Homo sapiens: one gene and its partners. The protein of the gene in region 1 purifies or fractionates together with the protein of each later gene. This does not show direct contact. Each region holds a gene or a part of one and is shown in the gene's direction. Other genes may lie near its edges.

Region 1 (5,838 bases):
TTCGAGACTAGCTTGGCCAACATGGCGAAACCCCATCACTACTAAAAATACAAAAATTACCCAGCGTGGAGGCATGCGCCTGTAATCACAGCTACTCGGGAGGCTGAGGCAGGAGTATTGCTTGAACCCAGGAGGCAGAGGTTGCAGTGAGCCGAGATCCTACCACTGCACTCCAGCCTGGGTGACAGAGTGAGACTCTGTTTCAAAAAAAAAAAGAAGAAAACAAAAACATTGCACTGATGATGGCTTTGATACTAATTAACTCCATGGGCTCAGAGAAGTTTCACCTTCGGGCCTCAGTTTTCTTTACCTTGAAAGGAGGGAGTCATTCATGAGGACTGTGAGGTCATCTATCTTCTCAGTATTAGCCTATGTGTATCCTTTCAGTTCCAAGATTCTTTGTTCTTTTTGAACTCTAAAGCTGATTTTTACAGGATATTTTATTAATTGTATTTAGAGAGCCTTGATAATTGAAGTATTCTTGCTTTCTTAAAGGTCACAATTTATTTAAAATGTATTTCATGTAAGAACTCAGAGATGAGATAATATTTACAGTTTACTTCTGGTTTTAAACTATAGTACATCAAAACGTGGTATTATGCTGCTATGCCATTTTATTTTATATGTCTTTTTTCTTTTTCTTTTTTGAGACAGGGTCTCACTTGTTGCCCAGGCTGGTGTGCAATGGTGTGACCACAGCTCACTGTTTTTTGGTGAGGTTTTTTTGTTGTTTTTACTTTTAAAATTTTTTATTAGATGAGCTTGCCCAGGCTGGTCTCTTAACTCATGGCCTCAAGTGATCCTCCTGCCTCAGCCTTCCAAAGTGGGATTATAAGTGTGAGCCACTATGCCCATGCTTTGCTATTTTAAATGACACCTTTATAAAGAAAAACTAGGAAACAGTAAAGTTGTGTATGACATAATGCTTGTAGATTTCCACAAATCTGTGACTATGAATCGTTACAATACCTTTTGATCTCTGTCACTTAATTAAAACAAAATCAGCCTTAGATTAGAAGCATTAGTAGACTTAAGACTTTTCTACATTTTTGGCCAGGTGTGGTGGCTCACGCCTGTAATCCCAGCACTTTGGAAGGCTGAGGTGGGTGGATCACCTAAGATCAGGAGTTTGACACCAGCCTAACATGGTGAAACCCGTCTCTACTAAAAATATAAAAATTAGCCAGGTGTGGTGGCACGTGCCTGTAATTCCAGCTACTTGGGAGGCTGAGGCAGGGGAATCGCTTGAACCCAGGAGGCAGAGGTTGCAGTGAGCCGAGATTGTGTCATTGCACTCCAGCCTGGGCAACAAGAGCAAAACTCTGTCTCAAAAAAAAAGAGTTTTCTACATTTTCTTTAGTAGTTGTGACTGAAAACGTTTACCAGTTTATAATTGGTATGATATAGGTATGTCATGACTTTTTAGTAACTAAATAACTAAGGGTTCCAACTGTAAAAAGACCATTTATATTTTTTCTTTGCATGCTTAGATCTTAAATGTCATAAACACCTTAAGTTTAAGGAGATGTATTTTTAGCCTAGATAATAGTGGAATTCTATTTAGTGCATTTTTTTCTCTCTCCACAGACTCAGTATTCATTTAAACAAGTATTTGGCACTCACACCACCCAGAAGGAACTCTTTGATGTTGTGGCTAATCCCTTGGTCAATGACCTCATTCATGGCAAAAATGGTATGATATGACTCTTGGAGTTTTGTTAGATTTTCCTTTTTCTCCTCTTCTGATAAAACTTTTTTGATATTTATATATTTGATTTATGTTTGGTGTTGAATCCATATTTAATTTGTTAGGGTGGTGCTAAACTTGCCTTTTTTGAGCTGGCTAATTGTTAGTGTTTTCTAATGCAGTGAAGAAATACTCTAAGTGGAGAACTTCTAAGATATAACTCATTGTGACTTGCTACACTGTAGGTCTTCTTTTTACATATGGTGTGACGGGAAGTGGAAAAACTCACACAATGACTGGTTCTCCAGGGGAAGGAGGGCTGCTTCCTCGTTGTTTGGACATGATCTTTAACAGTATAGGGTCATTTCAAGCTAAACGATATGTAAGTATGATTCTTTTGTGTTGTGACTATCTTACTGGACTAAGACACCTATGGATACAGTAGTAGTAAAGAAGAACCAAAGCACTGGATTCATTTTGAAACCTTAACTGTTCCTTAGTTTTTAAACATATTTCTTACTATTTAAGTTAAATTCTAAAAAACGTGGTGTGATTTTTTTTTTTTTGCCCCCACTTCAGGTTTTCAAATCTAATGATAGGAATAGTATGGATATACAGTGTGAGGTTGATGCCTTATTAGAACGTCAGAAAAGAGAAGCTATGCCCAATCCAAAGACTTCTTCTAGCAAGTAAGTAATTATATTTGTCTGCAGCACTGGCCTAGGGGCACAGGATTCTTTCCTGTGGTTTGCCCAGACATGAGGAATGGTGAACATTAAATAGAGAAGTTGACTTTTGTGAGATTAAAGTTAAGGAATGTTCTTAAGTTCTTTGCTCAGATGTTTTCTCTTTGGCTTTGAGCACATTTTGTTTCAATCACTGTTTTAAGAGGGTGCCACTCTGGATGGGGAGAGGGTATAAAAGCCATTGTTGTGTGTTCGGGAGGACGTGGGAATACTGTTGGCAAACCATGAGTATGAATAAAGCTGCTTTGTGCATTTCTGCTTGTAATTGCAGATATTTATTTTATCTGTTAGTTTCCCCTTGGGATCAGTTACTTTTTTTTTTTTTTGAGACAGAGTCTCACTTTGCTGCCCAGGGTGGAGTGCAGTGGCATGATCTCGGCTCACTGCAACCTCTGCCTTCCAGGTTCAAACGATCCTCCTGCCTCAGCCCCCCTAGTAGCTGGGATTAGAGGCACACGCCACCATGCCCGGCTAATTTGTATTTTTAGTAGAGACGGGGTTTCACCATGTTGGCCAGGCTGGTCTTGAGTTCCTGATCTCAGGTGATCCGCCTGCCTCGGCCTCCCAAAGTGCTGGGATTATAGCTGTGAGCCACCATGCCCGGCTGGGATCATTTACTTTTAAAATGGACTTATAACGTATACAATTGAACTTTTCTTTTTTTAGACGACAAGTAGATCCAGAGTTTGCAGATATGATAACTGTACAAGAATTCTGCAAAGCAGAAGAGGTTGATGAAGATAGTGTCTATGGTGTATTTGTCTCTTATATTGAAATATATAATAATTACATATATGATCTATTGGAAGAGGTGCCGTTTGATCCCATAAAACCCAAGTAAGTAATAAAGAGAGCCCCTTCTTAGCTGTTAATGTTGGGGAAGTTACTTTGCCTCAAGGAGTTTTAGTTTCTTCAGTTATGAAAGAGAATAATGCTTGCATTTGTTTTCAGAATGAAATGATATAATTTGTATATCACGTGGTTTTGTGTTTGAGTATGTTTATTATTAACTAGATATGTACCTGTATTAGGGAACTAGTGGGTTAAAGCATCTAAGGAGAAGAGGGACCCAAATATTCATCTTGGAGATTACTTTTGAAAACTCTGGGCCCTGGGCTATGTTTTGAGAAGGATCTTAATTATATAATTAAGAACGTTTCAAGAACCTGAGACAGTAAAAGGAGTTTTGTAGGCTCTTTAACCACCCGTGTCTTGGTGATTTCTACAGACTGGAGCCTAAAGCTGTTATCTATACAAGTAATACTTACATATCTTCTATCATTCATTAATATGGTATGATATCTGCACTGTAATTCCATCAGAGTTGAAATACTACTTCCTAGATTTCCTTGGGTCTTGCCTTTCTGAGACGTAAGACTGGTTACCACTTGGCATCACAAATGATAAATCTGCATTTGTGCCAGAGTTGACCCTGGGATCTTATGTTTAATATTAGTATCTTGTTCCTGAGTTGATGGTTTTGTTTTTCAGCTAAAGGCTTGTCTTTAATGCTGTCTTTATTAGGGCCTCTCAGGACATAAATAATACGAAGACCTGTGGCTTATATTTAACTTTGTATATCTAAGGGAACATTATTGGAGAAACAGCTGGATTTAGAAAATCATTAGACTGAGAATACATACCAGTATATCCACTTTTAATTACATGAAGAATTTATGGACTCTGGTTGAGGCCATACTTGATACAAGCATTTCTGTGGTTCTTAGTGAGTCACATTTTGATACAGTTATCTTCACCAGAGTCCTTGAATTTTCATCACGTTTATTGGGAAAACAATTACAATATGGCTAAGTAAGCTAAATGTAAAAATATTAACACTCTTAATACTAAGAGTTTATGCCAAGGAAGACTCTTTGGCTCTGTTTAACATTTCTTCAAGTGAGAACTTTACAAAGGGACTTATTTCTGGAGTGACCTATCTATATTTACCCTTGGAATGTTGGTAATAGTAAAAATACTTGGGTTAGGTTGTGGAGCAATACATGGAAGAGTTAAAACCTTGTGAGACAGTTACTTTTTATTTATTTTTGAGACAGGGTCTTGCTCTGCCATGTCAGCTCACTGCAGCCAACCTCCTGGGTTCAGGTGATCCTCCCGCCTTAGCCTCCTAAGTAGCTGGAACTACAAGCACAAGCCACCATGCCTGGCTAATTTTCTAATTTCTTGTAGAGATAGGAGTGATAGGGGTCTCACTAGGTTGCCCAGGTTGGTCTCGAACTCCTGGCCTCAAGCAGTCCTCCCACCTTGGTCTCCCAAAGTGCTGGGATTACAAGTGTGAGCCACCATGCCTGGCCTGACCATCACTTTTTATATCAAACTAATTACTTTCCCATTTGTTTTAAAGTGTCAACTGTCTTGACTCTAATCTTGAGTATACCCATTTTCATGTATGCTCGTGTGCCAACTTTTTGTTTGGTTTGTTCTAAATGAGATTATTTTCAAAGGATCATATCTTGGCTTTATTTAGTTATACAAAAGAAGATTGACAAAAGTACCTTGTGTGCTTTGTAACCTTTCTGGGTAACTCCTTAAATGAACATACAAGGGTGCTTGTTTGGCCCTGAATTCAGATTTAATTTGTTAGGTTGGTGTTAGACCTGCTTTTTTAAGCTAGTTAACTTTTAGTACTTTTAATACAATGAAAAACTATTACAAGTGGAGGGTTTTTAAGATATGACTCATTGTGATTGTCACATAGTCTGGACTGAACATGTTGGTGTGAGATGGCTGCTGTAGAAACAGTAACTTCTACCTTATTCCTTTGGTAGGTGGAACAGTTGCAGCACACCCATGAGGAACACAGATTTTGTGTATGTGATGGTGTTGGCTCTTTTCTTAAGGAGAAGGGTGCAGTTATACTATGGTTGGCATTCTGTGGCATGTTTGCATGTAGGTTATTTTCCATTGTCACTGGGCTGGCTGCTGTCTCTAAGCCCTCCTTGCTTCCTGAAAAATCTGCTATTGACTATCAGTGATGGTGGCTGGTAAATGTCTCTACCCTCACCATTCACAAGACTTAAGACCAAACAGGTAGCTCTCATACCCAACCTTCATCTTGTCATACAGACTAAAACTTCATAAGCCACTTTGAAAGGATTGCCACTCCTGGTATATACCAAACTCTTTCTGAATTTGTTTTCTGCTGTTGCTGAGGAGGTCAGAACTGGTTCTATCTGCTAGTCTTTTCAAATTAGGAAAATACTAGATTTTGATGCTTAACCTGTGCATGTGATGTTGCTGTAATACTACTTTGGTCTCTAAATTGTTTAGTGTATTGTTTCATGTGCTTTCTTAGAGCAAATTAGAGCAAAGCTTTTAAAACAAAATTGGTTTCTGTTATCTTGTTACTTAACTAATCTTGACTATTTAGCTTTACAATCTTAT
Region 2 (5,838 bases), on another chromosome or scaffold:
AGGAGATTCATGCAAACGTTTGTCCTTGCTCCTGAGGTATGTGTAGGAATGATTATTTTGTAGTGATCCAATACATGAAAAAAGAAACAATGAACTGTTGTGCATATCTTTAAAAACACTTGAAATTTCAGACTTACAGAAAACTTGGAATAATAGTACACTAACTCCTATATACTCCTTACCTAGAGCAGCTGTCACCACTTGCCCACATGTGTATAATTCTTTCTCTAAAATAGTTTAGTGGGCATTTCCTAAGAATAATTCTCTTCCATTCTGTAGTACAGTTATCAAATTCAGGAAATGTTGATGCAATATAATCTATAATCCATTTTTAAAATTTGGAAATTATCTCAATAATGTCTTAACAGTAATTTTTTTTCCTTGTCCAACATGGAATCTATAATTACACATTGCATTTAGCTATCATGTCTCTAGTCTCTTCTAATCTGCACTTGTTCCTTAATCTTTTGTTTTTTTTTATTGCATTGACATTTTTGAAGAGCACACTTTTTTTGTAGGATGCTTTATGGGTGTCATTCAGTGCTTCACATTAGGCATATTATGTCATTTAGTTGTGATATGAATTTTGATTAGTTAGGTTTTGCCACTGTAAAGTTAAATATCTTTTCTCTCTCTCTCTTTTTTTTTGAGACGGAGTCTCACTGTATCGTCCAGGCTGGAGTGCAGTGGCTCCATCTCTGCCCACTGCAACCTCCGCCTCCTGGTTTCAGGCTGTCCTCCTGACTCAGCCTCCCGAGTAGCTGGGACTATAGGCGTGTGCTACCGTACTCGGCTGATTTTAGTATTTTTAGTAGTGATGGGGTTTCACCATATTCGTCAGGCTGGTCTCTAACTCCTGACCTCAAGTGATCTGCCTGCCTCAGCCTCCGAAAGTGGGATTACAGGTGTGAGCCACCATGCCCAGCCTTATTTTTTCTCTTTTTGATTTGTAAATGAAGGATGGGAGATTCTCTATCTTTTTATCTTTCTTGAACACTTATGGCAAAATATTTTCCAGGTTCATCTTGCACTGTTCCTGGCCCAGTCCCTATTCTTGAATCAGCTGTTCCTTCAAGGAGGCCTGGTTCTTTTTAGTTATACTTATGAAAGGACGACAAGTTTATGTTGAATGATTGCATTTGTGTTTTCTTCCGGATTGGTCTAGACTGAACAAGGTTAGGAATCCTGTCTGCTTAAGCATGTATATAGAAATGGCATAGTAAGAAATTGTTGATTAAATCATTGTTTTCTCTAGCATTAATCTTAAGTTTTCTTTTTAGGATAGCAAACCTGAAACGCCTAAAATCTTTTAACCTTTGAATATGAGATAACTTTTTGTCTGTGCAAAATTACATGAAGCCAATTATAGTCATAATTTTTAGAGGAAGGCTTAGATTAAAATGTAAAGATGTGGTAGACTTCTAAATATGCAAAGAATCACATGGAGTATGATTGTGAATTACAGGTTTAATTACAGTTTTTTTCTTTTAAAGGAAGTATCTAACTTCTTAGTATAATACACTATTATATAAACTGTCTCATTTAATACAGAGAGTATTGAGGTATATGTTGATATCTTTCTTTTTTGTTTTTTGAGAGAAGAGTCTCCCTGTGTTACCCAGGCTGGAGTGCAGTGGTAGGATCATGACTTACTGCAGCCTTGACTGCCTGGGCTGAAATGATAATCCCACCTGAGCCTCCTAAGTAGCTGGGACCACAAGTGCAGGCCACCATTCCTGGCTGATTTTTGTTTCTGCTTTTGTGGAGACTCACTCTACAAAAAACTCACTGTTGCCCAGGCTAGTCTCAAACTCCTGGGCTTAAGCAGTTCTCCTACCTCAGCTCTCCAAAGTGTTGGGATTTCAGGAGTGAGCCACTGTGCCTAGCTGGTACCTTTCTTTTTACAGAGGAGTAACAGCCTTAGAAACTGAATAACTCATAATATATAATTGGATCTGCACTCAGGTGTGTCTTATACCTACTGCGAGCAATCTTTTTCAGGCTGCACTACCCTTGAGTGTTTATATCAATATTTTTGGAGACAGACTTGGGGAATTTTAAATATCTGCTGAAGTTAGGAATATGATTGCCTTTTTTTTTGAGACAAGGTCTTACTCTGTCGCCCAGGCTGGAGTGCAGAGGTGCAGTCTGGGCTTACTGCACCCTCCACCTCCCGGGTTCAAGCAATCCTCCCGCCTCAGCCTCCCTAGCAGCTGGGACTACAGGTGTGGGCCATTATGCCTGTCTCATTTTTGTATTTTTAGTAGAGATGGGGTTTCACCATATTGGCCAGGCTGGTCTTGAACTCCTGACCTTAGGTGATCTGCCTGCCTCGGCCTCCCAAAGTGCTGGGATTGCAGGCATGAGCCACTGTGCCCATCCGGGATATGATTGCCTTATAATGTTTTGAGGTGTGGGCTGTGGCATTTACATGCTTAGGGCTTTGTCAGTTTTTGGATATTTATCTTGTGGTGAGGTAAAGTGTTCTGAGCAAACAAAATGTATGTGAGTGTAGTCTTTTTACCGGCTATTGTAGAGTGGGCATTTTCAGTCTTGGCACTGTTGACATTTTGGATTAACTAATTCTTTGTTGTGGGAGCCTGTCCTGTGCATTGTAGGAATTTAGCAGCATCCCTAACCTTATAAGTTGTCAGTAGCATTCCATGTAGTGAATACTGAAATGTCAGCAGGGCATGCTGGCTCATACCCATAATTCAGAACTTTGGGATGCTGAGGCGGGAGGACCACTTGAGCCCAGGAATTAAAGACCAATCCGGGCAATATAACAAGATCCCGTCTCTACTCAAAAAAAAAAAAAAAAAAAAGAAAAAAGAGAAATTAGCCTTGCATGGTGGCGCGCCCCTGTAGTTCTAGCTACTTAGGAGGCTGAGGCAGGAGGATTGCTTGAGCCTGGAATGTCAAGGCTGCAGTGAGCTGTGGTGGCTCACTGCATTCCCACCTGGCTGACAGCAAGACCCTGTCTCAGAACCCCACAACAACAAAAACTGAAATGTCTCCAGATATTGCCAGATGTCTCATGGAGGCAGACTTGTCCCAGTCACCAATGGTGTAGAGTGATTTGACTTTCTAAAAGTCTGTTGAATAAATTAAAACTTTCTGTTGGCATTGCAGGGGTCTGTTGCAAATAAATTCTATGTTCACAATGATATCTTCAGATACCAAGATGAGGTCTTTGGTGGGTTTGTCACTGAGCCTCAGGAGGGTAAGTAGTGAAATACTTTAAATTACTTGTCTAAATTTTTTTTAATGGCATCCGATTGCCCTTAAGAGACTATGGGTTTCTTTACTGTTTTCATTACACTCTGTTCTTCATTAATAACTAATTATGGTATATGAAGAGTCTGAGGTTTTACCCTACTTGAAGCTGCTAACAGGTTAGCTTATATCATGGATGTTAGTAGAAGACATAAGACTCTTAGGTCAGAAGGAGACAGGCTAACTCACAGCGACAGTAGTAGTATTTTTGCCACATTTACCAATAGGATGTCATGGAGAAGGCTAGGTGATACTTCTACTGCAGTGGGTTGTGTTAAAGGCATGGGACACTGAGTTTAGGGAACCCAGATCTATTACAACAGGCAGTAAACATGACTACTCTTTGTGCTGGAGGGAGATACTCTTTCAAAGCTGTTTGCTATATAAATGTTCTTGAAAGACAGTCTAGAAGAAAGGGTAGGCATGGAAGATGTGTAGACACAGAGACTTATGGAAAATTTTCTCCAAAATAGTAGAATTGAGTGTTGTTTATATGGCTGAGAGTATATTTATTTTGTAATACAGTTTTACAGATAAGCAATCATTTGCCTAGTAAAGTGGTAGAGCCTGCATTAGATAACTGCCTAATATAATTTGGCTAATGTCACGTAGCCAGTAAGGTGACAGAGCCTGCATTAGGCTCCATGCTCTTAAAAACCAAGACACTACAGTAGCCTTAAAGTCTATCCTTAAGGCTGGGCGCGGTGGCTCACGCCTGTAATTCCAGCACTTTGGGAGGCCCAGGCGGGCAGATCACGAGGTCAGGAGATCGAGGCCATCCTGGCTAACATGGTGAAACCCCATCTCTACTAAAAATACAAAAAATTAGCCAGGCGTGGTGGCAGGCGCCTTAGTCCTAGCTATTCGGGAGACTGAGGCAGGAGAATGGCGTGAACCCAGGAGGTGGGGCTTTCAATGAGCCGAGATCGCGCCACTGCACTCTCTAGCCTGGGCGAGAGAGCGAGACTCCGTCTCAAAAAACAAAAAACAAAAAAAAGTCTGTTCTTCAAAGCCTTAGTTCTGTCCTTAAAGTCAGTGCCATGATTTTACCAAATTGTCCTACTTTGTTTATTTATATATGTTTTTCTTCACTGTTGTTTTGTGAACATTGCGAAAGTTAATGTATATGTGAATTCAGTAAGTACAAATTACTTTAAATATCTTTTTCTCACTTAGAGTCTGAAGAAGAAGTAGAGGAACCTGAAGAAAGACAGCAAACACCTGAGGTGGTACCTGATGATTCTGGAACTTTCTATGATCAGGCAGTTGTCAGGTAAGAAGATTTTGTTCACATGTCCGGGGCTGCATAAGAACTTGCATTGTCTAGTCTTTCCCTTTGTTGGAGGGCATTTACATATTCTGAGAATTACCTCAAAATAATAATTTCTCAGAAGAATGGTTTTGTTTCTGGTAATTTTGACTAAACAAAAATATGTAACTTGTTTGTTAATAGTAAATTGTACTATGAAGGCAATCTACTATTGCTTAGTTTAAATAGTATCAGTTTCTTTTTGGTTTAGTTTTTTCTTGGTGTTAAGTGAAAACTTGCATATTGTTTATCAAGAGTTGAATGTATTGAGGTATTAAATGCTTTGAGGGAATATGAAGTGGACAGAGACCTATTTAATTAGAGATCGGGCATAAATTGATATAAATACCAATATGTGAGTTAAGTAGCAATAAAGAATTTCATTACGTTAGTAAGTGCATCATTATACCTTTGGGTTTTTTCCCCCTTGTGATTAGAACAGAAATGTGTTTGATAGCAATAGAAATCCATATTTACTTGTTACCATGTGATACTGAATGTTAATATTCAGTGCCTGAAGGGTGTTTTCAAGTGTTTCTTAAGGTGTGATGAACTAATCAGGTTACTCACTTGGGTTGCTGGTTGAAAATGAAGATTCATGGTCCCACTGCAAACCTACCGAATTAGACTTTCAGGAGGCAAAACATCTGCAGTTTTGTTTGTTTTTGTTCTATTGAGACAGAGTCTTGCTCTGTTACCCAGGCTGGAGTGCAGTGGCGCGATCTTGGCTGACTGCAACCTCCGCTTCCTGGATTCAAGCAATCCCCCTGCCTCAGCCTCCTGAGTAGCTGGGACTACAGGCGCACGCCACCATGCCCGGCTAAGTTTTGTGTTTTTGTAGAGATGGGGTTTCGCCATATTGGCCAGGCTGGTCTGGAACTCCTAATCTCAGGTGATCTGCCCACCTTGGCCTCGCAAAGTGCTGGGATTACAGGTGTGTGCCCAGCCCCCTCTGCAGTTTTAACAGCATTTCTGGTTGATTTATGTGGAATTTTAAGAATTGTATTCTGAATCATAACTATTTTCTCCCCCAAATTCCTTATGTGCTTGAAAGAGTTTTTGTGTGTTTGTGTTAAAAGCCACATATCATAAAATTTGCCATCTTAACCTTTTTTTCATCTTAACCATTTTTAAGTGTAAAGTACAGTAGTGTTAACTGTATAGATGTGGTTCTATGACAGATATCTAGGACTTTTCACCTTACAACTTTTATTGAAGATAACTTTATATACCTTATAAACAGACTATACCCA
Region 3 (5,838 bases), on another chromosome or scaffold:
GCTTCTGTCTGAGCAGAGACTGGTAATGGCTAATTCTAAGCCTTCCGCTTGGTTTTTGTTTGTTTGTTTGTTTTTTGGTTTTGGGGGTTTTTTTGAGATGAAATCTTGCTCTGTCATCCAAGCTGGAGTGCAGTGGTGCATTCTCAGCTCACTGCAACCTCCGCCTCCTGGGTTCAAGCGATTCTCCCACCTCAGCCTCCCAAGTAGCTGGGATTACAGGCACCTGCCACCATGCCTGACTAATTTTTGTATTTTTAGTAGAGATGGGGTTTCGCCACGTTGGCCAGGCTGGTCTCAAACTCCTGACCTCAGGTGATCCACCTGCCCCAGCTTCCCAAAGTGCTGGGATTGCAGGCGTGAGCCACTGCGCTCGGCCAGCATTCCACTTGTATAGCATTTCTTTGTATACTTTAACCTCTATCGCAGCGGAAAGATTTGTTTTGTCAAGACTTTTTCCCCTTGAAATAGTTACCTGGGCCAGACAGAGATTATTAGAACCTGTCTTTTACTTCCTTGTGTTTTGATAATGAAAGAATTTTGAGAAATTGTTTCCCTGAATATGCCTAGAAATGAAAGTATGAAAGAAGGGAGATGTCATGCATGGATCTCCCTTCTTGATTCTTAAAACTGTTTATTCAAAACACTGGAACTTCATGGAACACAAAGGAAGGAAAAAAAGATCTGAAGGATATTGCTATTTGTTGGGAGGCAGTACAGCCTAGGGATGAAGCTTGCAGACTTTGGAATCAGTGAGCTCTGGGTTCAAATCCCATCTCCTAAAGGGGAGGACTGTGGCTATTATTTGTAGGACAGATGAACAATAAAGTGTTAAGTTTCCTGTTCTCTTCACTAAAATACACACATGCACACACGTGTATACACACATATATAGTTTCTTTTATATAAAATATAGAATTACTATTTCATAGACAGGGATTCAGGAAGACTTTGCTGGGGCATGTGGTATAGATAGGAGTTGAGAAGATCAGGATCATTTATTGGCCTTACGTAAACAGACAGCATTGGACTAGGGGCTTTTATATATGTAGTTTCATTTCTTCTTCAGTTAACCCTAGACAGTACTTTTATTTAGGAAGTACTTTTTATTAGGCCCTTTTTATGACTGAGAAAGTTGACGTTCAGGGTTATCATGGAGTTAGTATTTGTACTGAAGTCTGACTTCAGTACTTGTGCTCTTTTATACTACACTGTGTTGCTGCTTTTATTGTTTGGAGACATTCTTGTGATTGACTCAGCTGAAGAAAATAAATAAAGCCAAACCACTTGGCCTTATTTTAGAAGTCATTTGGAGATTGAAAGACATTTTATGTGATTGAAAGAAGCCTAGACCTGAGGTCAGAAGACTTGGGTTCTGGTCCTTGACAGCTCAGATCCCTGAGCACGTCCTTACCTCTCTTTAGCCTCTGTCTATGAAGCAGCAGTGGCCTCTCCTACCATAGTGCTATGCACAGGGTGCTATAGGAGCACAGGCAGCAATATATAGATTACTTTCCCCTCTGCTTCAGTGAGTTTGTGTATTTATTTGTTTAAGCTTCATCATATCTCCATGCCTCATCTACCCCATAGTGTTCTCATGAGGACTGTAAGAGATAACATTGCAAAAACGGTGCCTGGCTCTATAGGATTTTTATTATTTAAAAATTCTGGGCCGGGCGCGGTGGCTCACACTTGTAATCCCAGCACTTTGGGAGGCCGAGGCGGGCGGATCACGAGGTCAGGAGATCGAGACCATCCTGGCTAACACAGTGAAACCCTGTCTCTACTAAAAATAAAAAAATTAGCCGGGCGTGGTGGCAGGCACCTGTAGTCCCAGCTACTCAGGAGGCTGAGGCAGGAGAATGGCATGAACCCTGGGGGCAGAGCCTGCAGTGAGCCAAGATCGCGCCACTGCACTCCAGCCTGGGCGACAGCGAGACTCTGTCTCAAAAAAAAAAAAAAAAAAAAAAAAAATTCTGAGGTTGGTTGGTTTGTTGTTTGCTGGTAGGCCAAAGATAGAGAAGAGTCCAGGTGATGATAAGGACAGCATGTTTCTGGAAGGGCTCCGGTGTTGGGGATGGAATTTGGGAGGAGTTGAGAGAAAGAGAGTGTTTTAGTTCTTGCAACCTGGTTGAACATTGACACTTTGGAGATTTTGTCCCCTAAAATCATATTTAGATTCCGGATCAGAGATGAGGATGGATTTATAATTTACAAAGCCCAGACAAGAAACAGTGTACAACAGCAGTTAGCTTAGTAATGGCTCTGCCACAAGTTTGCCGAATAAAATTTGCTTTTTAAATGGTCACAAGGAGGTGAAAGGGAATCACCGATGAGTTGCACATAATTATTTTTAAGTGTCTGGAGGAAATCCCTGCCCCTTGACCACCTTTTGTAAAAATGTATTATTTTTTTTTTATAACTGCTCCTTGGGGAGCAGGGTTTTATTTTGACAATAAGAAAAGAAAAGTTGAAGCAGCGAGGGGTAGGGATGTTGAGTGTACTAATGGAATCTGACTTTCTTAGTAGTGTCTTTGTCCTGGCTCTTTCAACAAGGAAGTGGGCCAGGAAGTCATTTGCTCTTCTCAGACCTCAGTCCCCTTATCAGTAAGAGAACATTGAACTAGATAATCTTTAAGGCTTCTTCCAGCTCTGACAACCTGTGATAGCAGTAATTTCACATTGTCTAACACGTACTTGATTTCTTACCCCTTTCTCATGCCAGCTTTTCTGGGATCAGCTTTACAATTGCTCTGAGATCCTTCTGACCACTTTTTTTTTTTGAGGCAGGATCTTACTATGTTGCCCAGGCTGGTCTCGAACTCCTGGGCTCAAGCAGTCCTCCCGCGTTGGCCTCGCATAGTGTTAGGGTTACAGGCGTGAGCCACTGTGCCCAGCCAGTCCTGATCATTCTTGGCATGACTTTGGTCTTTATTCTTCAGTAAAGTGCTCACATAAAGAGATGCACATCAGTCTGGTCTTTTGCTTGGGTCTAAGGAGGCCATTGTTCCTTTAACATTATTTATTAGCTGTAAGATTTGGGAAAATTACTTGGCCTCCATTTCTTTATCTGTAAGATGGATATAATGACATCTACCCCAAAAGTCTATTCGGGGAGATTAAATAAAGCTAAATACCAGCAGAATATCTGTTAGTTTCCTTCCTTCCCTTTCTTTCTTCTCAGAAAGGCAGAATGAATTCATCTCTGTTGTTTCTCCAACAGCCAAGCCCAACAACTCTGGGGAAGCCCCCTCGAGCCCCACCCCTAAGAGAAGTCTGTCTTCAAGCAAATGTGACCCCAGGCATAAGGACTGTCTGCTACGGGAGTTTCGAAAGTTATGCGCCATGGTGGCCGATAATCCTAGCTACAACACGAAGACCCAGATCATCCAGGACTTCCTTCGGAAAGGCTCAGCAGGAGGTGTGGCATGAGCATCCTGAATAGGCCTTTCCTCCGGAGAGCTCAAGGCCATGGCTGCCTTCCTGGGCATGTGAGCTGTATAGTTGCCCGGGATCCCATGCTTGGTTTAATGCTGTACTGTAGTGCTATCTGGAAATTCTTAATAATTTTGAACAAGGGGCCTCGCATTTGCATTTTGCACTGTACTCCACAAATTATGTAGCCAGTTTTTCTCAGAGCACTTTGGCATCTGTCTTCCTCTCCCCTTATTCTGCTCCTAGGAGGCCAGAAGAACCCATCCTATTTGACTAGTTAGAAAATTTACTGTCCTACATATTTAATTAGGTTTTTGTGAACCATATACACAGTTTGGAATAGAATCTTCCAACTCTGTTTCTTTCATTTATCTAACAAATTGTCGATGAGCATCTCTGATGTCCTTGTCACTGGGCACGTGAAGTGAAACTAACCACTCTGTCCAACAAGAGTTCATCTGTAGGCTAAAGGTGAGGCAGACACAATCCACCAGCCTCTGAACTCCATGCTGTCTCCTACTATAGCGATATGCACAGGGTACTATAGGAGCATGGGCAGCGATATATAGATATCTTTTGGTCTCTGCTTCTTTGAGTTTGTTTGTTTGTTTATTTATTGAGACAAAAAATGTGGCTGTGTTGCCCAGGCTGGAGCGCATGGGTGCAATCTCAGCTCACTGCAACCTCCGCCTCCTGGGCTCAAGCAGTCCTTCTGCCTCAGCCTCCCAAGTAGCTGGGACTATAGGCATGTGCCGCTATGCCTGGCTAATTTTTGTATTTTTTGTAGAGACGGGGTTTTGCTGTTTTGCCCAGGTTGGTCTCAAACTCCTGGATTCAATTAATCTGCCTACCTCAACCTGCTAAAGTGCTGGGATCACAGGCGTGAGCCACCATGCGCGGTCTGAGTTTATTTTTTTATTTATTTTTGTGTGTGTGTGTGAGACAGTGTCTTGCTCTGTCGCCCAGGCTGGAGTACAGTGGTGTGATCACAGCTCACTATAGCCTCGACCTCCTGAGCTAAAGCAACCCTCCTGTCTTCTCCTGCAAGTAGCTGGAACCATAGGCATATGCCACCATGTCCAGCTAATTTTTTAATTTTTTGTAGAGATGGGGTCTTTCTTTGTTGCCAGGGTGGTCTCAAACTTGTGAGCTTAAGCAATTCTCCTGCTTCGGCCTCCCAAAGTGCTGAGATTACAGGTGTGAGCCACCTTGCCCAGCCTTCTTTGAGTTTATATATTTATTTGTTTAAGCTCTATTTCTCAAGAAGGGTTCCTTCTGTCTCCAGATGGTTTCCACGGTGATGTGTACCTAACAGTGAAGCTGCTGCTGCCAGGAGTCATTAAGACTGTTTACAACTTGAACGATAAGCAGATTGTGAAGCTTTTCAGTCGCATTTTTAACTGCAACCCAGATGATATGGCACGGGACCTAGAGCAGGTCAGAGGAACGGGAGGGAGGGTAGGCTACATTCCAGGTGGGGTTTTGCCAAGCCAGGCACCTGCAGCCTCTTTTTTTTTTTCTGGTTGGGACACATACTGTTTTAGGAAACTGAAACCCATTTGAGCAAGCTTCCGTTATAGGGGGAGCTGAATGTGAGGCTATAGCTCTTAATTTCTTAAGTTTCTGAGGGTGGAAACCATACAACTGCTGAACCACAAAGGCCTGGTTCTCAAAAGGCAGAATTTGAGACTTGCCCCCTCTGTCTCTCCTGGGGCTTTTATTCTGGACTCTTTTTTTCTTGCTTGTTTTCTCCTATAACTTGGCTTTACCAAGCTTTGGTTTGTCCGTGACTCTATCCCTGGTACCATGGCAAGTTTCCATCCCCTTCTAGGAATTGTGGATGGGCTAGTGTCTCTAAGAAGTGGGCTAGATATGTTGAGTTGGGATAGGAGCTATGATTGAAATTTCTTGATTCATCTTCAGTCCTGGGTCTTGGGGGATACACTTGGCCACCCTAGGGTTGCAGCAGTGGCATTTTGGTTTTTGGAGACAGGGTGACGTGTCAGAGACAATCAGAGTCTTCTTTGAGCAGAGCAAGTCTTTCCCCCCAGCTGCCAAGAGCCTCCTTACCATCCAGGAAGTGGATGAGTTCCTTCTGCGGCTGTCCAAGCTCACCAAGGAGGATGAGCAGCAACAGGCCCTACAGGACATTGCCTCCAGGTGGGGGAGCTGCCTCCGTCAAACCATGCCCATAGAGAGATGAACTCTCTTGGGAAGGGAAGGTTCCCTTGGGGTTCCAGAGCTCTTCAAGACCAAGTTAAATGTGCTTCATCCCCCTAGGTGTACAGCCAATGACCTTAAATGCATCATCAGGTTGATCAAACATGATCTGAAGATGAACTCAGGTGCAAAACATGTGTAAGTAGCAGCTCCGCTGACAGCCTGAGCTGTCATTTGTTAGCTTTG
Region 4 (5,838 bases), on another chromosome or scaffold:
ATTATACAGCAATTAGCAGCAACTGATTAGAAGTACACATAGGGGGCTGGGTGTGGTGGCTCACACCTGTAATCCCAGCACTTTGGGAGGCTGCGGTGGGCAGATCACTTGAGGCCAGCAGTTTGAGACCAGCCTGGCCAACATGGTGAAACCCCAGGAGTTTGAGACCAGCCTGGCCAACATGGTGAAACCCCGTCTCTACTAAAACTACAGAAATTAGCCGGGCCTGGAGGCTGAGGCACGAGAATCACTTGAAAGCGGGAGGTGGAGGCTGCGGTGAGATTGTGCCACTGTGCTCCAACCTGGGTGACAAAGCAAGACTGTCTCAAAAACAAAAAACAAACAAAAATCTAGCAACCTGGATGCTAAGTGAAAAAATAAAAACAGAATGAGATATAAATTCAAAATATACAAATAATACAGATCTTGTAAAAAACAAATAGTATTAATTAGATAAACACGAAAGAATGATTGCCTTATGAGCTGGGAGGAAAATGGGAGAAAGGCAAGTGTATAGAAAAATGAAAGAATTTTAAAGCAGAAATGAAGAATTTTTGAAAAGTTTGGTGATCTTTAAACTTGATTTGGGTTGAATGAGAGATAAAGAAAATTAATAGGAAGAACATCCTGCATACAATAACCGTTTTGTTTTCCCAATTTCTATAGGGTTGAAGCTTTGAGAGAAGCAGCAACTGCTGTTGAGCAAGAGAAAGAAATCCTTCTGGAAATGATCCACAGTATCCAAAATAGCCAGGACATGAGGCAGATCAGTGACGGTGAGAGCCATCTCCACAGAAGGGGCTCATCTTTTACACTCCTTTAAAGAGTTTATGATAAGTGTGGGTCAATTTTTGCTTGACTTTTGGTATGCGTACACCAGGCCACAGCATTTAATGTGAGCCACAGAGAGCAGCTGCAGCTGTCAGTTCATTACAGCAGCCACTTACTCAGAGATTTCTTCCAGCATGCTCTCTACCCCAAGCCCCTGGCTAGGAGAGATAGGAAAAAGCCTGCAAGCTCAGAAAAGCTGGCCCCAAGCAGTAAGGCCATGTGTTTTATCCCAGGTTCACAGTCCTAACTTCAGTTCCTCACAAGTTACTGGACTGCAAGAGATTAAAAAAGCAGAGGAAGAGGGTGAGAGAGTGGAAGCAGAGAAGTAGAGACCAAAAAAAAAAAAAAAAAAAAGATGAATTGAGGTACAACATAAAGAGAAGGGACAAAATGCAGAGAAAATGAGGAAACTTGTAGGACCAATAAAAGGCATGAATGTAAAAATGTGCTGTCATTTTCTTTTTTCTTTTTTTGAGATGGAGTTTTACTCGTCACCCAGGCTGGAGTGCAATGGCGCGATCTTGGCTCACTGCAACCTCTGCCTCCTGGGTTGAAGCGATTCTCCTGCCTCAGCCTCCCGAGTAGCTGGGATTACAGGCACGTGCCACCACGCCTGGCTAATTTTTATATTTTTAGTAAAGACAGGGTTTCACCATGTTGGCCAAGCTGGTCTCAAACTCCTGACCTCAGGTGATCCGCCTGCCTCAGCCTCCCAAAGTGCTGGGATTACAGGCATGTGACATCTGCCTAACCTGTGCTGTCATTTTCATGTGAAGAACATGAAATAGGAATAGGTCACTTCTGATTTTCTTTTATTGGCACTGGACTTCCTACTTGGGCTCCTTTGGTGCCACACAGGCCACATGGTACTGGGCCAAGTGGCTGGTGAGGTAAGTAAGCAACCTAAATCCAGATCAAAACTGTTACACATCTATAGGTAGGCCATGATCTAGTCTCTACGCTATCCTGCCCAAAGATCAATGAATTAGGAAGTTACAGAAGCAGGAGCTTGCTGACTTTCTCATATAAATAATGAAATGTTGATAGAGCTCCTCGTGCTGGCCAAGACTTTAGACCACTGTCCTGCTTCTATCTGGAGAAGGATGAAGTCAGTGCCTAGTATTGACGACAGAAGACAGCTTATCTTCTATCGTGGCTACATTTTCTCAACCAAAATTTGGGGCATTGTATTCTGATAAATGCACATGTCGTTCTGGAGAGATCTGGGACATCTGATCTCTGGAGCTCTACCCAGCATAAACCCTATATGTGCTTACTGCTCACAGTGTTAAGACTTGATCTCCATCCCAGTTACAAATGCATACCTACCCAAACTTTTGCAGACATGCCAATTTGAGAAGTCATCTGGTATCCCATATATGCAGATTGTCAGGAAGTGGTATTCTACAACCTCTTTCTGTAATCTAATACATTTCATCAGTTAATCTTACATGCTATAGTTTCAGCTTTTATCTCTAAAAAAATTTCATGGCAGAGGTAAAGAAAATAATAAATTTAGTCACAAACAAATGCCTTAATGTTTTTGACACAGATAAGTTTACATCTCATATTGATTTTTAGGAGAAAGAGAAGAATTAAATCTGACTGCAAACCGTTTGATGGGAAGAACTCTCACCGTTGAAGTGTCAGTAGAAACAATTAGAAACCCCCAGCAGCAAGAATCCCTAAAGCATGCCACAAGGATTATTGATGAGGTGGTCAATAAGTTTCTGGATGATTTGGGAAATGCCAAGAGTCATTTAATGTCGCTCTACAGTGCATGTTCATCTGAGGTGCCACATGGGCCAGTTGATCAGAAGTTTCAATCCATAGTAATTGGCTGTGCTCTTGAAGATCAGAAGAAAATTAAGAGAAGATTAGAGACTCTGCTTAGAAATATTGAAAACTCTGACAAGGCCATCAAGCTATTAGAGCATTCTAAAGGAGCTGGTTCCAAAACTCTGCAACAAAATGCTGAAAGCAGATTCAATTAGTCTTCAAACCTAAGAGCATTTACACAATACACAAGGTGTAAAAATGATAAAATACTATTTTAATTGATAACTAGTTCTTTGTTAGGTATAACCACTTAGTTGACACTGATAGTTGTTTCAGATGAGGAAAATATTCCATCAAGTATCTTCAGTTTTGTGAATAACAAAACTAGCAATATTTTAATTATCTATCTAGAGATTTTTTAGATTGAATTCTTGTCTTGTACTAGGATCTAGCATATTTCACTATTCTGTGGATGAATACATAGTTTGTGGGGAAAACAAACGTTCAGCTAGGGGCAAAAAGCATGACTGCTTTTTCCTGTCTGGCATGGAATCACGCAGTCACCTTGGGCATTTAGTTTACTAGAAATTCTTTACCTTAAGCAGCACACACATTTACTACACACACAGTGTTAACAAAGCACTGTGCTTAGAGGGTAAAAAGGAATCACAAAACAAGAATCTTTCCAAAGTTGTCTCATTCAGCAATGTTAAGGCATCTGTATCAAATTATTTTGGATGTAAAGATTCCTGTGTCTCATAATATGAATGTATTTTTTGATATACAAGAAACTGACATAAAATGTGAGAAAACCACCTATAATTTACCACTGTGAACAATTATATATCTATCTGCTTCATCTTTTCTCAAATGCATCAATTCTCTAAAATTCCTATATTGTAACTTGCCTTTTTTTAAAAAAGTTAGATGCTGATATAAAGTCTGCTTAATTGTCAACTTAATGAGCTCTATTTTGTGTAGTTATATCTTTATCCATTCCTCTTTTATGGACATTTAGGTTGTTTCCAACTTGTTGCTATTACTGCAACATATTTTTGTACACAGGACTTTTTCCTTCTTTCATTTTTGTTTTTCTCTGTATAAAGGCCCAGCAGTGAATTATATTGGGTCAAAGGATATAGACGTTTTCATGGCCTCACACATATTAAACTTTTTTTGTATAAAGGTTACAGCAATTTATACTTTTTTCAGTAATTAAAATATAGCTATTTCACTGAAATATTTCCAGCACTGAGCATTAATACCTAGTTTGCATTTTGTTTACTAAAAAGGTTGACCAGTGTGTTGATTCTTCTTTTATCTGATAAAGTGTGAAGCAACTAGAGAACACTTATTTGTTCAAAGTAACTAGTCCTATTGATATACAAAAACCACAACAACTTCCCTGGATACTATTTTGAAATGAACACATCAATTTTTATTTGAATGTAGGTATTCTTCACACTGAAAAACCAAATCAAGATCCAAACTGACTTTATGTATGTATATATCTCTCAATGCAAGCAATATCAAACTTCATTTTCTCTACAAAAATGCCAAGTTAGTCTCTTTATAAAAAGCAGTTACAATCTGAAGACATTCATGTTACTTCCTTTGCCAGCTCCAACTCTGCCTTATTTAAATCTTTGCATTTCATGGGAAACATTAATTCTATCTATGGCAGAGCCACTTGGTTTGTTAGCAGACTGATTTGCTGTCATCAGACTGTGAGATGATTTTTTGTGTGCATCATTTTTTTCTTGACCAGCTTTTTGAAAATTAAGAAATGGATAGTCATGTTTTCTTCAGGTTCTCAAGTATTGTCAGCATCCGTAAATCCCTTCCACTCTGGGAAATACTACTGCTCCCTGCTTCCCATGGCTTCCACATCAGTCCAGGACTTTTTCTACACAAATTATTCTGGCTCTGCCTCCTTGACCTTGGTATTCTTAGCATTATTTTTCCCATTTTTTTGCAATGGAGTTTTTAATGGAGGTCATTGATTTCTGATCACAGACTTGAAGAGCTATGATCCACATTTCCAAGCTGCTTGGGGTCCCTGGTTTACAGTGTCTCCAGCATTCTGTACCTAGAGCCACATCTAAAGGGCAGGGAATCTCCAGTGTGGTTTTTTGTTTTTTTGTTTTTTGTTTTGGAGTCTTGCTCTGTCACCCAGGCTGTCTGACAAGTAGAAGACATATCCACTGTAGCAAGGAACACTATGGAGTATATGAGTTAGGGAAAAGAGACTGTGAAGGGAAGAGAACAAACATTTTGTAGACGTTTGGTGTTGAATATATGCTATGGAGGCAGTTTCTATAGTTTCATTTACTTCATGAGGTTTCATTTTTTCTTTTCTGAGATGGAGTCTTGCTCTGTTGCCCAGGCTGGAGTGCAGTGGTGTGATCTCAGCTCACTGCAACCTCCACCTCCCGGGTTCAAGCGATTCTCCTGCCTCAGCCTCCCTAGTAGTTGGGACTACAGGCGCCCACCACCACGCCCGGCTAAATTTTTGTATTTTTAGTAGACATGGGGTTTCACCATATTGGCCAGGCTGGTCTCAAACTCCTGACCTTGTGATCTGCCTGCCTTGGCCTCCCAAAGTACAGGGATTACAGGCATGAGCCACCACGCTTGGCCAATGGGTTGGTTCTTAACATGTATTTTTATTTATAAGAATGGGAGTATAATTTATTTTCAAATGATGATGAATCTCCTGAGTCACATTTTTACCCTCATTTAAACTATTGTCTTTTATATAGACTATAAGTGGATATAGAGTATGTTTTGCTGTATCTCAATTCTCTACCATTCCTAGCATATAATACATAATTTTAGGGTAGCCCTCCTGCCATTCCTTGTTAGCACTACTTTCAATAAAATGAGAGTATTAAATATTGGCAGAGTATCTGAAATATGAAATAATTTTAGGTTGCTTTGATCTTTAAAGAAGTTGCATTATATATTTTACTATTTAGATCCACACTGTTGATACAATCATACATATCACACAAAATTTTAGCTTTGAAATGCATTTATTTTCTGATTATTGGAATTCATCCTTCATGAAATTTTTAGAGTAGTGTTTTAAATTAAGCTCCAGAGTGTAACTGCAACCAAATAGCAATACATACAAGTGGTTTTCCATTCAAATTTACAAAAGCATTATTTATTAGTAATAAAAATATAGAAGGAATTCAGTTTTCCTTTTATCCCCAATTTTTTGCT
Region 5 (5,838 bases), on another chromosome or scaffold:
AAGAAAGGTAAGTTTCACATACAATAGGAAAATGCTTTTGTGAGTTACTTCCTTTAGCTTTATTTTCTTTTAGGCATATGTCTCACACCTCTCCACATTGTCACAGCCACAGACTGATCCTTGTTTTGCTGTTTTAGGAATGGTTTTCAGCATCAATTTAGGATTCTCAGACCTGACTAACAAGGAGGGGAAAAAGCCAGAAGAGAAAACCTATGCCCTGTTCATTGGTGACACAGTGCTTGTGGATGAGGTGTGTATTGTGTCTAAACTTTGGAGTCTTCATGAACTAACTTCTGAGGCACGTTTGTGGACCCTGTGGTTTTTTTCTTGCTTTGTTAAATGCTAGCTAAGGGGAAGAATCCGTGTGACAGCCTAACCTAATGCAGCTAGGAATAGAGACTGTAGCCCAGGTATAGGGAATGATATAAACCTTTAAATCATATTGTCATATTGTGGCTTGAACCTTGATAATGATAATATCAGGAACTAATACTAATAATGAAACCGGTTATTCTTTTTTCTTTTTAATAACAGCTTTATTGAGCTACAATTCACATACTATACAATTCACCCACCTGATATGTACAATTTAGTGATTTTTAGTATTTTCACATTTGTGTAACCATCACTACAATCTAATTTGAAAATATTTTCATCACCTCAGGAAAGAACCCTGAACCTATTAGCAGTCACTCCCCATCCCCCTTCCCTTCCCCCACTGGTTCTTCAGGCCTAGGCAATGACTAAACTGCGTTCTCTCTAAGGATTTGCTAAATATCTGAGCAGTTGATGTAAATTCAGTCATACCCTATGTGGTCTTTTGTGACTGGCTTCTTTCCCTCAGCGAACTGATTTTTAATAATAGTGAGCACAGATAGTTCAGTGTTTTTATCATAAGCTAAGCAGTTTACATTAATTCATTGAAATAGTACCTTGTGAAGTAGATACTCTTATTACCTCCATTTACAGATAAATTGAAGGCACAGACAAGTTTAAGTAACTTGCCAAATGTCACTGAGGTAGAAAGCAACTGAGCCAGGCTTCAAATCAAACCTGTATTAGTGATTACCCAATGTTGCCTCCCAAATTGTAGCTCTTGGCTGGGCGCAGTGGCTCACGCGTGTAATCCTAGCACTTTCGGAGGCCAAGGCAGGTGGATCACCTGAGGTCAGGAGTTTGAGACCAGCCTGACCAACATGGTGAATCCCCGGCCCTACTAAAAATACAAAAATTAGCCAGGTGTGGTGGTGCGCGTCTGTAATTCCAGCTACTCGGGAGGCTGAGGCAGGAGAATCACTTGAATCCGGGAGGCGGAGGTTGCAGTGAGCTGAGGTCACGCCATTGCACTCCAGCCTCGTTGACAAGAGTGAAACTCTGTCTCAAAAAAAAGAAAAAGAAAAAAAATTGTAGCTCCTGACGAGAGGTTAGAGGTTAGAAGGATAAAAACTATATTTATTCATTGTCAAACATTTTAGTGTCCAAAAGATTCAAAGCATTGCCCAGCCGTTTACTAGGTTAGAAAATGAAATTGCCTCTTTTAAATAATGTGTCTTCATTCTCCTTTTAATTCTAGGATGGCCCAGCTACTGTTCTCACTTCTGTGAAGAAGAAAGTGAAGAATGTGGGGATTTTCCTAAAGGTAGGAAGAAGATAGATAAGTAGTATAGGAAGTTTAGGATATAAAGAAGTTAAATAATATTGGCTAAAATAATTAAAATTTCATTTTTTGATTATGACTTTTTCCATAGAATGAAGATGAGGAAGAAGAGGAGGAGGAGAAAGATGAGGCAGAGGACCTTTTGGGAAGAGGTTCTCGGGCAGCATTACTTACAGAAAGAACAAGAGTAAGTTTACTATTTTAAATTACATTGATCTCGGCTGTCATATGGCTCACGTGTTGTGATAAATTGGATTTTCCATTCACCAGAATGAAATGACTGCAGAAGAGAAGCGAAGAGCACATCAGAAAGAACTAGCGGCTCAACTCAATGAAGAAGCAAAGAGGCGATTGACTGAACAAAAGGGAGAACAGCAGATTCAGAAGTAAGAGTTTTCACTGAGCAGTGAGATCATCTGAGGGTTCTGTGGGACTGCAGAAATTTCTCAGTTGTTTTTTTATCCCACTCCAGAGCTCGCAAGTCTAATGTGTCCTATAAAAACCCATCTCTGATGCCTAAGGAACCACATATTCGGGAAATGAAGATCTACATCGATAAGAAATATGAGACTGTAATAATGCCCGTGTTTGGCATTGCAACACCGTTTCACATTGCCACAATCAAGGTACTGACATTCAGTGCATCAGGTTTCATCCAAACTGTTGCTTAAAATAGTAATTGTATTTGCCATAAATAATCTGCATTCATCATGTCTCCCACTTTTGACTCCTTCAGACTCTGTTCAGTTACTGACATCCCTCTTGTCTTGTCATTCTCCTTCCTCTTTCAGTTTTTTTCACTTAGTAGAAAGCTAAACTAGTCTAGAAACATAATTTGCCTATCTTTCTTTCAACTTCGTTTAATCATTGTTTAACTTTTAGTTGTATTCATGGTACAAGGTACTTTGAGAATTCAGAGATTTTTTTGGGAAAAGGATACTTCGTTATTAAAAAGATAAATTATGTAAATTTATTAGATTTAGATTAAGGTTAAGAGCGGTCAATTTGTAACTCCTAACTTAATTTTAACATCTCTGTAACTACTAATCTCTAGGAAAGAAATCTGTTTACTTTTTATGCTTTTCCTTTGAACAGAATATAAGTATGTCCGTGGAAGGAGATTATACTTACTTGCGAATCAACTTTTATTGCCCAGGCAGTGCTCTGGGCAGGAATGAAGGCAACATCTTTCCTAACCCTGAAGCGACTTTTGTCAAGGAAATGTGAGTCCCCAAGAAAAGTCATACCCAGATTCATCTTGTCTGGAGTGGTACTCTCAGAAACATTTCATTGTCTGTGCTACATTTTCCCTACCTAGTAAATGTCAAAGCCTTCCTCATTGGTACTTGTTTCGGATCGCCTTCTTGACTTTGTACTATTTTCAGGATGGATCCCAATTTAGAATCTTCTTGAAGATACTATATATTTACTAAACATATTTTGAGCCTGGGTAATATAGTGAGACCTTGTCTCTTCTAAAAAATAATTAACCAGGGGTGGTGGTGTGCACCCGTCATCCAGCTACTGTGGAGGCTGAGGTGAGAGGATTCCTTGAGCCTGGGAGGTTGAGGCTGCAGTGAGCCCTGATCTTGCCTGTACTCCATCCAGCCTGAGCAACAGAACGAGACCTTGTCTCAAAAAAAAAATAATTATGAAAATAAGTGTTAAAAGTAATAAACATATATTGCAGTAGAATCTTCAAATAAGAAAACTGGTGCCACATTGGATTCTATGATTTCATGGTGTGAAATGGGATAATTTGGGGATGTTATACCAGATTTGAAAAATGAAAAAAGAAGGAATGGGCATGCATGGTGGCTCACGCCTGTAATCCCAGCACTTCGGGAGGCAGAGGCAGGCAGATTACATGAGGCCAGGAGTTCAAGACCAGCCTGGTCAACATGGCAAAACCCTGTATCTGCTAAAAATACAAAAACTAGCCGGGCATGGTGGTGTGTACCTGTAATCCCAGGTACTTGGAAGGCTGAGGTGGGAGGATGGCTTGAACCCAGGAGGCGAAGGTTGCAGTGAGCTAAGATTGGGCCACTGCACTCCAGCCTGGGTGACAGAGGCACACCCTGTCTCAAAAAAAAAAAAAAAAAAAAAAAGCAAAGTAGAGATTAAGCTGCTTAGAAGATAAAGTAAATCAGTACAATTTCCCTGGCCTGAAAAAGAAATGTCTATAAATGCTGTTGCTTTTCTGCAGTACATACCGAGCATCAAATATTAAGGCACCCGGAGAACAGACAGTACCAGCCTTGAACCTTCAGAATGCTTTCCGAATTATTAAAGAAGTACAGAAACGTTATAAAACTCGAGAAGCTGAAGAGAAAGAGAAGGAGGTGAGCCTGAACACAGGCAAAACATTCTTACACAAAGAAGGACATGTATTTTTTGGAGACTTGTAAGGATATGTGACAATTCACATTAATTTTCTTCTTGCTTAGGGGATTGTAAAACAAGACTCACTGGTGATCAATCTAAACCGGAGTAATCCGAAACTGAAAGATCTATACATTCGCCCAAATATTGCCCAAAAGAGGATGCAAGGCTCACTGGAGGCCCATGTCAATGGTATGGATGATCTCTCCTGTACCTAGGCTTTCTCTTCAGGGCACATTTGTTAGGAATGACAGATCAGATAATAAAATATGACAAAGAGCCATCCGCCGGTTAGCTCAGTTGGTTAAAGCATGGTGCTAATAAAGTATGACAAGGAAATGCTGGGAGGAATCTACTTACACTGCTGTGTGGCCAGAAGGAAAGGAAAGCTCTATACAGCTGTTGGTGTTTCCTCTGACCCTGTGCAAATCAGCCAGAAGAGTTGCAGTGCCTTTTGGCCTAACTTAATTATACTGCTTGACATTTCTTCATTCTTTTCCCCAGGCTTCCGCTTCACATCTGTTCGAGGAGACAAAGTGGATATTTTGTACAATAATATTAAGCATGCTTTGTTCCAGCCCTGTGATGGAGAAATGATTATTGTCTTGCACTTTCACCTCAAGGTATACCTTTCTACTTAACTAGCTGTCAGCTCTTGGGCAAGACACTTCATTTCACTCAGCTTCTTTCCTATAAAATAGTGATGAAAGGGCTGGGCGCGGTGGCTCATGCCCACAATCCCAGCACTTTGGGAGGCCGAGGTGGGTGGATCACCTGAGGTCGGGAGTTCGACACCAGCCTGACCAACATGATGAAACCCCGTCTCTACTAAAAATACAAAAATTAGCCAGGCGTAGTGGCCAGCGCCTGTAATCCCAGCTACTTGAGAGGCCGAGGCAGGAAAATTGCTTGAACCTGGGAGGCGGAAGTTGCAGTGAGCCGAGATCGCGCCATTGTACTCCAGCCTGGGCGACAGCGTGTGAAAAACAAAAAACAAAAAAGTGATGAAAAAATCACCTCTCACTTAAGAACATTTAAGAGGATTAAATAAAATAATGCCTCTAAAGGCCACAAGGCCTGGCATCTAGAAGGGGCTCATAAGCATGTTTGTTCCTTTGGTGTGTTATATGGTGGCCAGCAAATGTTTTATACGAGATCTCCAGATTTCTCTTTCTAAAATGAAGTTTTGCTTTAGATAAGATTTGTTACCAACATGATTTCCAAAGTTCCTGTAATAAGTAGGAGCACAGCACTTTTTCAAATGTACACTGTTTCCATTCCCAAGCATCATTATTTATGATGACACCAGGGGTGGTTTAATTATTTTTGCATGCATGCTGTGGAGGCCCAAGTTTGGATCACTGCCATTTCCATCACAGATACCTTTGTGTTTCTGACTTCTGTGTTCTTTCTGTTTTATGCCGACAGAATGCCATCATGTTTGGGAAGAAGCGGCACACGGATGTGCAGTTCTACACAGAAGTGGGAGAGATAACCACGGACTTGGGGAAACATCAGCATATGCATGACCGAGATGACCTCTATGCTGAGCAGGTTTGTGAAATTTAGTATTGTATTTGCAGGATAGTGAGGGAGGATGAGGCCAAATCCAAGCTCAGGGATTGTATTTTATAAACAAACTGGGCTGGCGTGGTGACTCGCGCCTGTAATCCCAGCACTTTGGGAGGCCAACATGGGCAGATCACCTGAGGGTCAGGAGTTCGAGACCAGCCTGGCCAATGTGGTGAAACCCTGTCTGTACTAAAAATACATAAATTAGCTGGGCGTGGTGGGTGGTG

Evidence for each region.
Region 2: the proteins of KIF23 (region 1) and G3BP1 purify together in Homo sapiens (affinity purification with mass spectrometry; 2 studies listed by BioGRID). This does not show direct contact.
Region 3: the proteins of KIF23 (region 1) and LIG3 purify together in Homo sapiens (affinity purification with mass spectrometry; 2 studies listed by BioGRID, with this or other methods). This does not show direct contact.
Region 4: the proteins of KIF23 (region 1) and BAG2 purify together in Homo sapiens (affinity purification with mass spectrometry; 2 studies listed by BioGRID). This does not show direct contact.
Region 5: the proteins of KIF23 (region 1) and SUPT16H purify together in Homo sapiens (affinity purification with mass spectrometry; 2 studies listed by BioGRID, with this or other methods). This does not show direct contact.

Annotation. Positions count from the first base shown.
Region 1 is NC_000015.10:69,420,060-69,425,897, forward strand, and holds part of KIF23 (kinesin-like protein KIF23), read left to right. Parts: intron 1-1,587; coding exon 1,588-1,693; intron 1,694-1,932; coding exon 1,933-2,069; intron 2,070-2,266; coding exon 2,267-2,376; intron 2,377-3,099; coding exon 3,100-3,270; intron 3,271-5,222; coding exon 5,223-5,264; intron 5,265-5,838.
Region 2 is NC_000005.10:151,791,027-151,796,864, forward strand, and holds part of G3BP1 (ras GTPase-activating protein-binding protein 1), read left to right. Parts: coding exon 1-36; intron 37-3,132; coding exon 3,133-3,223; intron 3,224-4,452; coding exon 4,453-4,549; intron 4,550-5,838. UniProt on the Homo sapiens protein: Protein involved in various processes, such as stress granule formation and innate immunity. Plays an essential role in stress granule formation.
Region 3 is NC_000017.11:34,986,246-34,992,083, forward strand, and holds part of LIG3 (DNA ligase 3 isoform alpha precursor), read left to right. Parts: intron 1-3,220; coding exon 3,221-3,418; intron 3,419-4,717; coding exon 4,718-4,869; intron 4,870-5,425; coding exon 5,426-5,592; intron 5,593-5,712; coding exon 5,713-5,790; intron 5,791-5,838. UniProt on the Homo sapiens protein: Isoform 3 functions as a heterodimer with DNA-repair protein XRCC1 in the nucleus and can correct defective DNA strand-break repair and sister chromatid exchange following treatment with ionizing radiation and alkylating agents.
Region 4 is NC_000006.12:57,181,366-57,187,203, forward strand, and holds part of BAG2 (BAG family molecular chaperone regulator 2), read left to right. Parts: intron 1-666; coding exon 667-776; intron 777-2,412; coding exon 2,413-2,825; 3' UTR 2,826-5,838. UniProt on the Homo sapiens protein: Co-chaperone for HSP70 and HSC70 chaperone proteins. Acts as a nucleotide-exchange factor (NEF) promoting the release of ADP from the HSP70 and HSC70 proteins thereby triggering client/substrate protein release.
Region 5 is NC_000014.9:21,359,239-21,365,076, reverse strand, and holds part of SUPT16H (FACT complex subunit SPT16), read left to right. Parts: coding exon 1-7; intron 8-137; coding exon 138-250; intron 251-1,573; coding exon 1,574-1,639; intron 1,640-1,748; coding exon 1,749-1,844; intron 1,845-1,927; coding exon 1,928-2,043; intron 2,044-2,129; coding exon 2,130-2,283; intron 2,284-2,752; coding exon 2,753-2,880; intron 2,881-3,863; coding exon 3,864-3,999; intron 4,000-4,104; coding exon 4,105-4,231; intron 4,232-4,543; coding exon 4,544-4,662; intron 4,663-5,467; coding exon 5,468-5,593; intron 5,594-5,838. UniProt on the Homo sapiens protein: Component of the FACT complex, a general chromatin factor that acts to reorganize nucleosomes. The FACT complex is involved in multiple processes that require DNA as a template such as mRNA elongation, DNA replication and DNA repair.